Linked DNA regions of Homo sapiens: region 2 is linked to region 1. Evidence: fine-mapped expression QTL. Tissue or cell type: Th17 cells. Region 1 holds a variant in brackets; the other region holds the start of a gene. All regions are shown on one strand. Distances are between the middles of the regions.

Evidence for each region. PIP is the estimated chance that this variant, and not a neighbour inherited with it, causes the effect.
Region 2: it holds the start of RTN4, and the variant in region 1 is fine-mapped to the expression of RTN4 in Th17 cells (Schmiedel 2018, PIP 0.95).

What each region holds. Positions count from the first base shown.
Region 1 is chr2:54,695,267-54,703,381 of GRCh38, forward strand. No RefSeq gene overlaps it. Among named protein-coding and RNA genes, the nearest start is that of SPTBN1-AS2, 19 kb to the left of the region's middle. RefSeq lists an enhancer at 3,164-3,879. The variant GA/G (reference allele first, on the strand shown) is at 4,616.
Region 2 is chr2:55,047,117-55,055,231 of GRCh38, forward strand. It overlaps RTN4 (reticulon 4), which reads right to left and starts at 3,335. Exons shown (of 9, transcript NM_020532.5): 1 at 2,629-3,335. The coding sequence starts at 3,184. RefSeq lists enhancers at 2,341-3,153, 3,116-3,165 and silencers at 2,656-2,775, 2,916-2,975.

The DNA.
Region 1 (8,115 bases):
TACTGGCTTCAGGTGAGACTCAGCATATTCCCAGCTGTGGTGACTATGGGGAGAGACTCCTTCTGCTCAAGAAAAGTGAAGGGAAAAGCAAAGGGAACTTTGTCTCGCACCTTAGGTAGCAGCTCGGCCACAGTGGGATAGAGCACAAAGTGGGCTCTTGTGGTTCTCGATTCCAGGACGTGGCAATTAGACAGCATTTCTGGACCTGCCCTGGGCTAGAGGGGAGCCCACTCCCTTGAAGGGTGTATCTCAGGCCAGGCAGCATTCACCACAAGCTGACTGAAGAGCACTTGGGCCTAAAGGGAACTTCAGCAGTAGTCTGGCAGCACTCCCCTCTGGGCTTAAGGTGGCAGTAGCCATAGGATGAGAACTCCTCTGCCTTTGGAAAGGGGAGGGAAGAGTGGGAAAACCTGCGTCTTCTGGTTTGAGTGCCAGCTCAACCACAGTACAACAGAACACCAGGTAGACATCTAAGGTTTTTTACTCTAGTTCCCTGATTCTAGGATAAAACCTCTGGACCTACTCGGCCTGGGGGAACCTGCCACCCCAAAGGGAAGTACATAAGTCTGGCTGGCTTTGCCACCTACTGAATGTAGAGCTCCAGGGCTTTGAGTGAACATAGGCAGTAGTCAGGGAGTGGTTACAGCAGGCCTTGGGTGAGACCCAGTGCTGTGCTGGCTTCAGGTCTGACCCAGCACAGTCCCAGTGGTGGTGGCCACAGGAGTGCTTGTGTCACCCCACCCCAAGCTCCATGCAGTTCACAACAGAGAGAGACTTTATTTGTTTGGAAGAAAATAAGGGGAGAAAACAAGGGTCTTTGCCTGATAATCTAGAGAATTCTTCTGGATCATATCCAAGACCATCAAGGTGGTACCTCTACGTGTCTGTAATAATCAGACCATTTCTGGGCTAGAGGTGCCCCCTAATGCAGCTACGGCTTAGATCACAACACCTAAGTATTTTTGAATATCTGGAAAGCCTTTCCAAGAAGGACTGGTACAAGCAAGCCCAGGCTATGAAGACTACAATAAATACCTAACTCTTCAGTGCCCAGACACAGACAAACATCCACAAGCATCAAGACTATCCAGTAAAACTAAATAAAGCACCAGGGACAAATCCTGGAGAAAAAGAGATATGTGACCTTTCAGACAGAGAATTCCAAACAACTGTGTTAAGGAAACTCAGAGAAATTCAAGATAATACAGAGAAGGGATTCAGAATGTTATCAAATAAATTTAACAAAGAGATTAGTAATTTTTAAAAAATAAAGCAGAAGGCCAGATGCGGCAGCTCATGCCTGTAATCCCAGCACGTTGGGAGGCCGAGGCGGGTGGATCAAGAGGTCAAGAGATTGAGACCGTCCTGGCCAACATAATGAAACCCTGTCTTTACTAAAAATGTAAAAATTAACTGGGCATGGTGGCGCCCACCTGTAGGCCCAAGCTACTCAGGAGGCTGAGACAGGAGAATCACTTGAACCCGAGAGGCAGAGGTTGCAGTGAGCTGAGATGGCACTGCACTCCAGCCTGGCAACAGAGTGAGACTCCATCTGAAAAATAAAATAAAATAAAATAAAAAATAAAGCAGAAATTCTACAGTTGGAAAATGCAATTGACATACTGAAGAATGCATCAGAGTCTTTTAATATCAGATTGATCAAGCAGAAGAAAGAGTTAGTGAGCTTGACAGACTATTTGAAAGAAGATTTTGTCACAGGAGACAAAAGAAAAAGCAATAAAAAGCAATGAAGCCCACCTACATGATCTAGAAAATAGCCTCAAAAGGGCAGATCTAAAAGTTTCTCCTTTACAGAGGAGGTAGAGAAAGAGAGAGATGGGGGTAGAAAGTTTATTCAAAGGGATAATAACAGAGAACTTCCCAAACCTAGAGAAAGATATCAATATCCAATTATAAGATGGTTATAGAACACCAAGCAGATTTAATCCAAAGAAGACTATCTCAAGGGGTTTAATAATCAAACTACCAAAGGTCAAGGATAAAGAAAGGATCCTAAAAGCAGCAAGAGAAAAGAGACAAATAATATATGGAGCTCCAACACGGATGGCAGTAGACTTTTCAGTGAAAACCTTACTAACCAGGAGAGAGTGGCATGACATATTTAAAGTGCTGAACGAAAAAAGCCTTTACCCTAGAATAGTATATCCAGTGCAAATATCCTTCAAACATGAGAGTCAAATAAAGACTTTCCCAGACAAAAGCTGAGGGATTTCATCAACACCAGCTCTGTCCTGCAAGAAATATTAAATGGAGAACTTCAATTAGAAAGAAAAGAATATTAATAAGCAATAAGAAGTCATCTGAAGGTACAAAACTCACTGGTAATAGTAAGTATACAGAAAAACACAGAGTATTATCACAGTAAACTACTCAAGTAGAAAGACTAAATGATTAATCAAAAATAATAACTGCAACAAATTTTAAAGACACAGACAATACAATAATATATAAGTAGAAACAACAAAAAGCTACAAAGCGAGGTGGGAGGACAAAGTTAAGGTGTAGAATTTTTATTAGTTTTCTTTTGCTTGTCTGTTTGTTTGTTTATGCAAACAAAGTTAAGTCATTAAAATAAAGGGTTATAGGACAGTATTTGCAAGCCTCATAGTAACCTCAAGTCAAAAAACAAACAACAAATACATAAAAAATAAAAAACAAGAAATTAAATCATACCACTAGAGAAAATCACCTTCACTAAAAGGAAGACTGGAAAAAAGGAAGAGAAGACCACAAAACAACCAGACAACAAACAATAAAATGACAGGAGTGAGGGCTTACTTATCAACAACAACACTGAATGTAAATGGGCCAAATTTGCCAATCAAAATATGCAGAGTGACTGAATGGGGGGAAAAAAAGACCCAATGATCTGTTGCTGACAGGAAACGTACTTCATCTGTAAAGACACACATAAACTGAAGACAAAGGGCCAGAAAAAATTCCATACCAATGGAAACCAAAAAAGAGCAGGAGTAGCTATACTTACATCAGACAAAATAAATTTCAAGATGAAAACTATAAGAAGAAACCAAGAAGGTCATTATATAATGATAAAGTGGTCTATTCAGCAAGAGGATATAATAATTTTAAATATATGCCCTCTCCCTCTCCCTCTCCCTCTCCCTCTCCCTCTCTTTCCGCGGTCTCCCTCTGATGCCGAGCCAAGGCTGGACTGTACTGCTGCCATCTCAGCTCACTGCAACCTCCCTGCCTGATTCTCCTGCCTCAGCCTGCCGAGTGCCTGCGATTGCAGGCGGCGCCACCACGCCTGACTGGTTTTCGTCTTTTTTCGGTGGAGACGGGGTTTCGCTGTGTTGGCTGGGCTGGTCTCCAGCTCCTAACCGCGAGTGATCCGCCAGCCTCGGCCTCCCGAGGTGCCGGAATTGCAGACGGAGTCTCGTTCACTCAGTGCTCAATGTTGCCCAGGCTGGAGTGCAGTGGCGTGATCTCGGCTAGCTACAACCTCCACCTCCCAGCCGCCTGCCTTGGCCTCCCAAAGTGCCGAGATTGCAGCCTCTGCCCGGCTGCCACCCCATCTGGGAAGTGAGGAGCGTCTCTGCCTGGCCACCCATCGTCTGGGATGAGAGGAGTCCCTCTGCCCGGCTGCCCAGTCTGGGAAGTGAGGAGCGCCTCTTCCCGGCCACCATTCCGTCTAGGAAGTGAGGAGCGTCTCTGCCCGGCCGCCCATCGTCTGAGATGTGGGGAGCGCCTCTGCCCGGCGGCGACCCCGTCTGGGAGGTGAGGAGCGTCTCTGCCCGGCCGCCCCGTCTGAGAAGTGAGGAGCCCCTCCGCCCGGCTGCCACCCCATCTGGGAAGTGAGGAGCGTCTCCGCCCGGCAGCCACCCTGTCCGGGAGGGAGGTGGGGGGTCGGCCCCCGCCCGGCCGGCCGCTCCGTCCGGGAGGGAGGTGGGGGGCGCCTCCGCCCGGCCGCTGCCCCGTCCCGGAGGTGGAGGGCGCCTCTGCCCGGCCGCCCCTTCTGGGAAGTGAGGAGCCCCTCTTCCCGGCCACCACCCCATCTGGGAGGTGTACCAACAGCTCATTGAGAACTGGCCATGATGACGATGGCGGTTTTGTGGAATAGAAAAGGGGGAAAGGTGGGGAAAAGATAGAGAAATCAGATTGTTGCTGTGTCTGTGTAGAAAGAAGTAGACATGGGAGACTTCATTTTGTTCTGTACTAAGAAAAATTCTTCTGCCTTGGGATGCTGTTGATCTATGACCTTACCCCCAACCCTGTGCTCTCTGAAACATGTGCTGTGTCCACTCAGGGTTAAATGGATTAAGGGCGGTGCAAGATGTGCTTTGTTAAACAGGTGCTTGAAGGCAGCATGCTCGTTAAGAGTCATCACCACTCCCTAATCTCAAGTACCCAGGGACACAAACACTGCGGAGGGCCGCAGGGTCCTCTGCCTAGGAAAACCAGAGACCTTTGTTCACTTGTTTGTATGCTGACATTCCCTCCACTGTTGTCCTGTGACCCTGCCAAATCCCCCTCTGCAAGAAACACCCAAGAATGATCAATGAAAAAAATAAAAATAAAAAAATAATTAAAAAAAATAAAAAATAAAAAATAAAAATAAATAAGATTAAAAAAA[GA/G]AAAAAATAGAAATAAAAATAAATATATGTACAATCAACACTGGAGCACCCAGATATATAAAGTGAATATTTTTAAAGCTAAAGGGAGAGATAGACTCCAATATAATAATGGCTGGAGACTTCAACACCCTACTTTCAGCATTGGGCAGATCTTCTAGATAGAAAATCAGCAAAGAAACATTGGACTTAATCTGCACTATAGACCCAATGGACCTAATTTATATTTACAGAACATTTCCACTAACAGCTACAGAATACACATTCTTTTCCTCAGCACATGGATCATTGTCAAGGAGAGACCATATGTTAGGTCATAAAACAAGTCTTAAAACATTGAAATAAAATCAAGCATCTTCTCTGATCACAATGGAATAAAACTAGAAGTCAATAACAAGAGGAATCTTAGAAACTATACAAACACATGGAAATTAAACACCATGCTCCTGAATGACCAGTGGGTCAATGAAGAGATTAAGAAGGAAAATTCAAAATTTCTTGAAACAAATTATAATGGAAACACAACACGCCAAAATATGTGATATATATGAAAAGCAGTTCTAAGATGAAAGTTTATAGCTATAAGTGCCTATATCAAAAAAGAAGAACTTTAAATAAACAACCTTATGATAGATGTTAAAGAACTAGAAAAGCAAGAGCAAACAAAATCCAAAATTAGGAGAAGATAGAAAATAATAAATATCAGAGCATAAATAAATGAATTTAAAATGAAGAAAACAGCACAAAATATCAGTGAAACAAAAAGTTGTGTTTTTTTGCAAAGATAAACAAAATTGGCAAACATTTTGTCAGACTAAGAAAAAAAGAGAGGACCCAAATAAATTAAATCAGAGATGAAAAAGGAGACATTACAACTGATACCCCAGAAATTCAAAGGGTCATTAGTGGCTACTGTGAGCAACGATATGCCAATAAATTGGAAAATCTAGAAGAAATGGATAAATTCCTAGACACGTACAGCCTACCAAGATTGAACAATGAAGAAATCCAAAATTTGAACCGACCAATAACAAGTAATAAGATCAAAGCCATAATAAAAAGTCTCCCAGCAAAGGAAAGCCCGGAACCCGGGGGCTTCACTGCTGAATTCTACCAAACATTTAAAGAACTACTACCAATCCTACTCAAATTATTTCAAAAAGTAGAACAGGAGGGAATACTTCCAAACTTATTCTACGAGGCCAATATTACTCTAATACTAGAACCAGACAAAGACACATCAGAAAAAGAAAACTATGGGCCAATATCACTGATGAATATAATTGCAAAAATCCTCAACAAGATAGCAAACTGAATTCAACAACACATTAAAAAGATGATTCATCATGACCAGGTGGGTTTCATTCTAGTGATGCAAGAATGGTTCAACATATGCAAATCAATCAATGTGATATAGCATATCAACAGAATGAAGTGTAAAAACCATGAGATCATTTCAATTGATGCTGATAAATCAATTAATAATAAGTCATTATATCAATTGATGTTGATAAAATCGAACATCCCTTCATGATAAAAATCCTCAAAAATCTGGGTATAGAAGGAGCATACCCCAACATGATAAAAACCATATATGACCGACCAACAACTAGTGCCATACACAATGGGGAAAAACTGAAAGCCTTTCTTTTTGATCTGGAACGTGACAAGGATGCCCACTGTCACCACTGTTATTCAGCGTAGTACTGGAAGTCCTAGCTGGAACAATCAGACAAGAGAAAGAAATAAAGAGCACACAAATTGGAGAAGAATAAGTCAAAATATCCTTGTTTGCAGATGATATGATCTTATATTTAGAAAAACCTAAAGACTCGACCAAAAAACTATCAGAACTCATAAATAAATTCAGTAAAGTTGCAAGATACAAAATCAACATAGAAAAATTAGTAGCATTTGTAAATGCCAAAAGTAAACAATCTGAAAAAGAAATCAAGAAAGTAATCCCATTTATAACAGCTACAAATAAAATAAAATACCTAGGAATTAACCAAAGAAGTCAAAGATACCTACAATAAAAACTGTAAAACACTAATGCAAGAAATTGAAGAGGACACCAAAAACTAGAAAGAGATTCCATGTTCATGGATTAGAAGAATTAATATTGTTAAAATGTCCATACTACCCAAAACAATCTACAGATTCAATGGAATCCCTATCAAAATATCAAGGACGTTCTTCACAGAAATAGAAGAAAAACAGTCCTAAAATGTATATGGAATCACAAAAGACCCAGAATAGCCAAAGCTATCCTGAGCAAATAGAACAAAATTGGAAGAAACACATTACCTGACTTTAAATTATAGTACAGAGCTATTGTAAACAAAATGACGTGGTACTGGAATAAAAACAGATATGTAGATCAGTGGAACAGAACAGAGAGCCTAGAATAAATCCACACATCTACAGCAAACTTGTTTTCAACAAAGGTGCCAAGAACATACACTGGGAAAAGGACAGCCTCTTCAGTAAATTGTCTGGGAAAACTGGATATCCATATGCAGAAGAATGAAACTAGACCCCATCTCCCTATCTCTTGCCATATAAAAAATAAAATCAAAATGGATTAAAGACTTATATTTAAGACCTCAACCTATGAAACTACCAAAATAAAACATTAGGGAAACTCTCCAGGACATTGGACTGGGCAAAGATTTCTTGAGTAATAACCCACAAGCACAGGCAACCAAAGCAAAAATGGACAAATGGGATCACATCGAGTTAAAAAGCTTCTGTACAGCAAAGGAAACAATCAACAAACTGAAGAGATAACCCACAAAATGGGAGAAAATATTTGCAAACTATCCATCTGATAAAGGATTAAAATCAGACTATATAAACAACTCAAACAACTTCATAGGACTAGTCTAATAATCCAATTAGAAATGGGCAAAAGATCTGAATAGACATTTCTCAAAAGAAGACACAAAAATGGCCAACAGGGATATGAAAAGCTGTTCAACATCATGGATCATCAGAGAAATGCAAATCAAAACTACAATGCGATATCATCTCACTCCAGTTAAAATGGCTTTCATCCAAAAGTCAGGTAATAACAAATGCTGGCAAGGGTGTGGAGAAAAGGGAACTCTTGTACACTGTTGGTAGGAATGTAAATTAATATAGCCAAAATGGAGAACAATTTGGAGGTTCCTCAAAACAATTTGGAGTTTCCTAAATATAGAGCTACCTTATGATCCAGCATTCCCCCTCCTAGGATAAACCCAAAAGAAAGGAAATCAGTGTATCAAAGAGAAATCTTTACTCCTATGTTTATCGTAACACTATTCAAAATAGCCAAGATTGGGAAGCAACCTAAGTGTCCATCATCAGATGAATGGATAAAGAAAATGTGGTACATAGACACAATGGAGTACTATTCAGCCGTAAAAAAGAATGAGATCCTGTCATTTGCAAGAACATGAACGGAACCGGAGGTCATTATGTTAAGTAAAATAAGCCAGGCACAGAAAGACAAACTTCA
Region 2 (8,115 bases), 350 kb after region 1:
AGGAGTTCAAGACCACCAGCCTGGCCAACATGGTAAAATCCCGTCTCTACTAAAAATACAAAAATTAGCCAGGCGTGGTGGCAGGCGCCTGTAATCCCAGCTACTCGGGAGGCTGAGGCAGGAGAATCACTTGAACCTGGGAGGCGGAGGTTGCAGTGAGCCAAGATTGCGTCATTGCACTCCAGCCTGGTGACAAGGGGGAGACTATCTCAAAAAAAAAAAAAAAAAATTCCTGTTTAAAAATATATTTCATATTTTTCTCTTACCTCAGTTTCCCTCAAGTATGTCTTTTTCATAAAGAAAAAGGAAAAGATTGAGTTACTCCTCATCTTCTAAGACCTTTAATATGGCAATTAGTGTTTTGAGTAGTATGGGGGTGAGGAGTCCGTCAACATCAAAATATTACTAAAAAGCATCGCAATTGGCTTATTTTCCCCCATTATGGAGAAGTGAATTGAGAAAAAAAAAAATCAGACTGATTTTCTTTTAAGAAATGAATCACCTCTAACATCCTACAAGGCTATGAAGATTTCCAAGCAGGCAGTTACACTACTTGATTCTTGACCTTTTATACATAAAGGTCCTACTGCTAGTGGGACACTTTCTGTCCCCGAAGTAGCAAGTACTTATGAATGTATCTAATATTATGCATTCTCAATCTCTAACAAACGTGATTTTTTTCGCTTCCAAAATAATTTCCCAAGATGAAAACGGCAATAAAACAACGTGACTAATAATAACATACAATCAGGAACTTAGGTGAATGAAAGAACTTGAAAACTATTTTACAGACCATACATAGTCATGCCTCGCTGAACAGGGGGAACAGGATCTGAGAAATGTATTGTTAGGCAATTCTGTCGTTGTGCAAACCTCACAGTATACTTACAGAAACCTAGATGGTAGAGCCTACTACATACCTATATGTAGGCTATATGGTATAATCAATTGCTCCTAGGCTACTAACCTATACAGGATGTTACTGTAGGCAACTGTAACACAATGGTATTTGTGTAGTGTTTATCTAAACATACCTAAAATAACACTGTACAAAGGATTAAAAGATGGCACACGTGTGCAGGGCACTGGCCATGAACAGAGCTTGCCAGCCTGGAAGCTGCTGTGGACGTGAGTAGTGAGTGAATGTGAAGGCCTAGGACATTACCATGTACTACTGTACAACTTACAGACACTCTACGGTTAGGCTACACTAAATTTATCTTTAGATATATTTTTTCAATAATAAATCAACCTTAGCTTACTGTATCTTTTCTATTTTATAAACTTTTTGGCTCTTTTGTAATAACGTTTAACTTAAAACACAAACACATTTTAAAGCTATAGAAAAGAAATTTTATATTCTTATTCTATAAGCTTTTTTCTATTTTTTTTTTAACTTTTGTTAAAAACTAAGATACAAACGCATTACCCTAGGCCTACACAGGGTCAAGATCAAGACGTCGCTAGGCGGCAGGAATTTTTCAGCTCCATTACAACCTTATGGAGCCACCGTTGCAAATGCGGTCTGTCCTTGACCTAAACGTCGTTATGAGGCACGTGACCGTATTTTGATTCTGTAACCTAAAACATATCCTTCTGAAAAACAGTATTTCTAACCAATATATATGAAAATGTCTGTCTCAAAACATTTCTCTGTGTCTCATGGTAAATCTGCCACGAGTTCAATTAGCCAATTCCTGGCAAGGAATCCACAGGTTTTCCCTTCTTTAGGAATGTCAACCATTTTGCCTTTTATTTTTTTCTGTAAGATTCAATTATGATGCACTAAGAGGCTGGGCCAAGTCCACACTAACAGCAATTCCTCCGACCCTGCAGCTGAAACCCCGGCAGAACTACGCCCCCTCGAACACAATGCCTAGATCCCCTTTCCCTGGCTCGGTTTAGCTGGTGGGGAGCAGTCCACATCACACCCCGGGGAGCTGGGCGGTGGCAGGACTTTACCAGAACTCTCTCCTTCCCATTTCTCCACGCACCACACCACTGGAGGCGCTCTCCCTTCACTGCGGTTGGGTCAATGTGGACGTTTTCCACTCGGCCAGCTCCCCACGAGCACAGGAGGAGGGGGAGGGGAAGCGCAAAGGGGCCACCCACGCCAGCCAGGAGGTGAGGAGGGAGCCCGGGGCAGAATGCAGGCCAACAGACCCGCAGCAAAACTGCACCTTTTCCAAAGGAGCAACCCAGACGGGTAGACAAAAGCACCTCCTAAAAATATCTGGGTGCCAAGGCCTTTCCTTCCTCACCTCGAAGCCCAACCAACCCGATAAATCCACAACCCTGGCTCTCGGGTATATACCCGGCTCCTACTACGGGTGGGTGCCTAACTTCCGAGAATCCGTACGCTGGGCATCACACAGGGTGAAAGTGGGAGCCGGGAGCGGTGCACGTGTTCCCCGAAACCAAGACGGACAATAAGAACAAACCCGGGCTCCAAGGGCCGCCCCACCCTTCTCCCCGCGCTTCCAACCAGACGGGGCGCCATCGCCCCGAAGTCCGCAGACAAAGCGCCCTCGGGGCGGAGAGGAGGGACCAGCCCAAAGCATCTGGGGCTGCACACAAAAGAGGGAGGGGCGCGAGGGGCGGCGCGAAGCGAGAGGTCGCGGCACTCACCCACTGAGCCCGAGGAGCCCCTGCGCTTGGGCGCGGCCGGGGTGGAGGGGGGCGCGGCGGGAGCCGGGGCTGGCGGGGTCCACACGGGCTCTGCCTGGGGGCTCACGCTGGCCGGGGGAGGAGGGGGAGGCCGGGCCGGAGGCTCGTCGTCCTCAGGGAGCTTGGAGGGCGAGACTGCGGCAGCAGACAGCGGGGATGGCGCGGGCACGGTCGACGACACCGGGCTCGGGTCCCAAGACGGCTGCCGCTCCGGGGCGACGGGGGGAGCGGCCGGCAGGGGTCCCCGGGGCGCCGGCGGCACGAAGTCATTTCCGAAGTCCATCAGGGGCGCGCCGGCGGCAGGGGCGGTGGGCACTGGGGCCGCGGACAGCCCGGCGGCGGGCTTCCTCTCCAGCACCTCCAGCTCCTCCAGGTCTTCGTCCTCGTCCTCCTCTTCCTCCTCCTCTTCTTCCTCCTCGTCCTCGGGCTCCCTCACGAACTGGTACTTGAACGCGGGCTGCGGCCGGGGTGGGCTGTCCGAGGACGAGACCAGAGGAGACTGGTCCAGGTCTTCCATGGCTGGAGGGTGGAGATGATGCTGCAGCTGCTGCCGCCGCCGCCGGGGCCGCGTCTCAGAGCCGCGGGCGGTTGTGGGGGTTGGGGAGGACTGAGAGGGGCTGGGCCGACTGAGCCGAGGGACCTACTGTGGTGACGGCTCCCGGAACAATGAGACTGCTCCTCCTGCCTCCGCGCCGGTGATGCGCCACCCGCCCTGTCCCCACTTGCCGCCGCCGCCCAGATGAGCTAGGAGTGAGGCCAGCGGACTCTCCGCCCAGTTTGGCGTGACTCACCCTCCCCAGGGGAGGGCAGGGACTGGCGCGGGAGGGAGAGAGCCAATCGGCTACAGGATCGAGAAGATAGGCGACCAGCCGGGCCAACAGAAAGGGAAGGAGATGAAAGTGGGTGGGGACTACGGCACTTCCTCTCTCTTACCGGCTGGGATTGCGTTCAATGGGCGGGGCTGAGAGCTGGGAGCTCCACCCCCACTTTGGGTAACCGTGAGTTGGGGTGGGGTCTTGGCCTTGCCCGCAGCTGGCGTCCGTATGTCGTTAGAGCACTGGGAAAGGGGGCGGGCTGCTGGCTGGGAGGGGTCGGCGCGGTTTCTGGCGCGCCACCGGAAGGGCGTTATCCTGGGGGAACTGAGAGTGGAAACTTTCCTCCCGGGAAAGGAAGAAACCCGACTGGAGAAAGGTATTAGCGGGACTGGGAAGTGGGCCCTAAGGATTTTTAAAGATTTTTGAAATAAAAGATTATTTGTTCACTCAAAGTTCCAAACTACATCACTACTACTACCACCCTAAAATAAGAAAAAAATTGTTTTTTGACAGTTAGGCTCACTCAGTCTAAACCGCAGCCCCCGAAATTGGGAGGAAAACAGCTGTGCTGAATTAACTAGGGATCTGGGGCCGACCATTTGAAAGTCTGCTCTTCTTCCAAAGAGAGTTTGGGGCCTTGCCTGCTGGACTCTTACATGGTAAGAGAGTGAGTCACCCAAAGAGAGAGGCAGCGGGGAGACAGGAAAGTGGAAATACAAAGATGCCTTGGAAAGCTAATTTGGTTCACGTTACATTTCAGTCACCTTAGGTTCATGAGTCAACATTTCGGATGATTCAGGCTTTCTGGGAGTCAGGAAGCCCCATAGTCATTGGTTTGATATGCAGGAATAAGCATGATCCCCATTCCACTTTTTATGAGGCTGGAGAGTTTAAAGAGAGTAGTTGCAGAACATCTTTGTAAGAATCAGGATCCTTTTATCTTTCTGATTTACCTTTCAAAAATATTCACTGCATGCCTACTCTGGAGGCCCTGGAGAGAAGAGGATAACCTGCTTTCAAGTTGCTCAAAGTCTAAATCTGTGCTGTACCTGACAGGTACTGGCTACTTGTGGCTACTGATTGAACACTCGGAATGTATGTAGCTAGGCTGAAATTAGATGTGCTGTAAGTGTAAAATGCGCACTGGATTTCAAGAATTAGTACCTCCGAAATGTAAAATATCTCAGCTTTCCTGTTGACTGAATGTTGAAATTGATATTTTGGATATATTGGGATAAGTATAATATTATTAAATTAATTTTACTTGTTCCTTTTAAAGCAGCTTCTAGAGTTTTTTAAATACATAATGGCTCACATTATATTTCTTTTGGACAGTGCTAGTCTAGATTAATAATTAAGAAAGTTTGATTGCCATGGGGAATCACTGGCAAATTCTTAGCTCCAACTAATTTATATTACTGTGGCTTAATTTGGGTATTAAAAAAGAAAAGTAAGAGTTGGAGGGAGGGATAAATAGGTGGAACACAGAAGATTTTGGGGGCAGTGAAACTGTTCTGTATTATCCTGTAATGGTGGATACATAACATTATGCATTTGACAAAACCCACAGGACTATACAACAGAAAGAGTGAACCCTAATGTAGACTATTGACTTTAGTTAATGATATATCAATATCAGTTCATCAGTTGTAACAAATGTACCACCTCAATGCGTTATGTTAATAATAATAGAGGAAACTGTGGTTAGGGGGCAGGAGTGAGAGTGTATGGGAACTCTGTACTTCCTGTTCAACTTTTCTGTAAACCTAAAACTGCTCTAAGAAATAAAGTTTATGAACCTTTAAAAAAGGAAAAGAATAAAGATTTCCTGGCAATGTTACTTGATTGGGTTAATTATCAACAATATATTCAAGACCTATCACATTAATTCCACGGAGAACTGGCTTTATTTGTGCAAAACGTTTGTGACTTGCTTTGAGTTTGGTGTTATTTTTTGGAGGGGTTGGGAAGAGTAGGAAGAGAGATGTATTGATGTAGAATTTTGGGGCGGGAAGTTAATGCCAAATGAATTTAAACAAAACAAATTTCTACAATGGTGACTACAAGAGACATATTTGAAGTCTTTGTCAAATATTTATCAAAAATTATAAAAAATTTGCCTGATTTTCAACCAATTGCATAAACATACAAAAATATACTAACAGTATTTTATGATACGACCTTTTCTATTGTCACAGTTTAGCTATCAGCAGTCTTCCCCGCATGCTTTTCCCACTATGACTGTTCTGAAATTCCTTAATGATAAGTTTCACAGGGCCTTTATGTATGTCTAATATAAACAGGACTTACGTTATTTGCAAGTTGTTTATATGATATTTCTGCATTCATATATCCCTGTACCTACTACTACTAAAATAGTCTCAAAGGAGTATCTTTAATCAAAGTTTCACAAAAGAATAATTATAAATAGTAGATTTACAATTTTAATAGGAAATAGCAGTTAATATTGATGCAATAATATAAGCACTATCTGGTGCAGAATAAAAATAAATTTTATTAATCTCAGTGACTTCTAAAAAAATAAGTATTTGATAGATAGATGAGTAAAGAGTTTGCCCAGCTTTCATAGAATGATCAACAAAGCAAAAAGAAAGGAGGCTGTTGCTGCTCTACCACAATTAAAAGTAAAGCTAGTTATACATTGTTGTAACTAGATGTAAATATCACTATCACTAACAAAATTCTGGTGGACATTTGAACCAGTTAAAAGAAAAATGCACATTCTAGATACTAATAATAGTTTTAAAATAATTATTCAATAATTTATATTTGAAAATAGCTTATCAGACGGGCACCGTGACTCATGCCTATAATCCCCGCACTTTGGGTGGCTGAGGCGGGTAGATCTCTTGAGGTCAGGAGTTTGAGACCAGCCTGGCCAACATGGTGAAACCCCATCTCTACTAAAAATACCAAATTAGCAGGGCATGGTGGTGCACACCTGTAACCCCAGCTACTTGGGAGGCTGAGGCAGGAGAATTGCTTGGACCTGAGAGGCAGGGGTTGCAGTGAGCCAAGATCATGCCATTGCACTACAGCCTGGGTGAAAAGAGCGAAACTCCATCTCAAAAAAAAACAAAAAAAAAAAGAAACAAAGAAAAGAAAATACCTCATCAGAAGTAGAAGATTAAAGTTTTCAGATACCACTGGTTAGTAGCTGTTCTCTCTGAGAACACTACAAGAGATCCAGCCTGCTAGAATCATAGAATCTTAGGGTTGGGAGAACTTTGGGAGGTCAGCTTAACCAATCTCTCTTCCATTATCATGGTCTCACTTATAAGCAAGAGCTAAATAAAGTGTACATATGGACATAGAGTTTGGAATGATAGTGGAGACTCAGAAGACTGGAGAGAAGGAGAAGGGATGATGAGAAATTCCTTATTGGTACAATGTACATTATTAGGGTGATGGATACACTAAAAGGGTGACCACTATGCAATCAATACATGCAAAAAAATTACACTTGTACCCATAAATTTATACAAATAAAAAATTTAAATAAAAAAATTCTTAAGAGTACCAAAATGATGTTTCAGTCTCTTTTAAATAGAAAGATTGAATGTAATTCAGAGGTGCTCTTGAACACAGGCCAGTCATTTTCAGTAGGTGAAAAAGCTGTGGTTGACTGCTCTTGAAACAGGTGTGTCTGTAATCCACCTCTCATCTTTCTTATCTTGCTTAACCATCCCTTTTGTGCTTTCACTTTATACTTTTTAATAAGAGAAATATTTGTTGGGTATACAGTCTGCACCAGGCCCTGCTCAAGACTTTGAAGAATACAGCACTACGCCAGACACAAACGTGCTTGCATGTTTTCAGTAAGAGACCTATTACTTGGGGAAATCACCCCTTCCATTTCTATAGTATTATACCTTATTTGCAGAATGCTAAATTGACACCTAAACTGGTATTTGTAGAACAAGTTAATTGTCCTTGAATTATGTATGCCCCTCAAAAGAGTTAAAAGGCGTAGGATGGGTATACTCTTGCCTACATATAGCAGGACGTGAACACCAGAGTGGGTTCGGTAAGAGAAGAAAGATGAGAGGTGGATTGTAGAGAAACCTGTTTCAAGAGCAGTCAACCACAGCTTTTTCACCTCTGAAAATGACTTGCCTGTGTTCAGGAGCGCCACTGAATGACATCTGACCTTTCTATGTAAAAAAGACTGAAATATCATTTTGGCACCCTTAAGTGAAAAATTAACAGCGTGCTAAGTTGTTGTCCCTATCATTTTGCTGGGATTTTAGATTTTATGAAATGTACCATTTTGTGAAATGCAGTTCATGGTTCTGTTCAACATCTTAACATATTAAATCCATTCTGTAATAAGAATAGAAATATAAATGTAAGATCAACTTCTTCAGTCATGTTAGTTAAGCATTGACAGTTAGTGTTGGATCTAAAATAAAAATGTTAAGTCCCAAAAAGAAATCCCATAATAAGCAAGTGAAAGTCATAATTAAAACTGAACCAAATCTTTCTCCTTTAACTGTTTTCGGTCCCCTGCATTATTAGAAATTAGGCTATTTGAATATGCATTGTTTCCCTGGAGAAATTTATTTTGATCTAGCAAAAAAATTATTTCAGATACGAGAAAGTTAATTTTGAT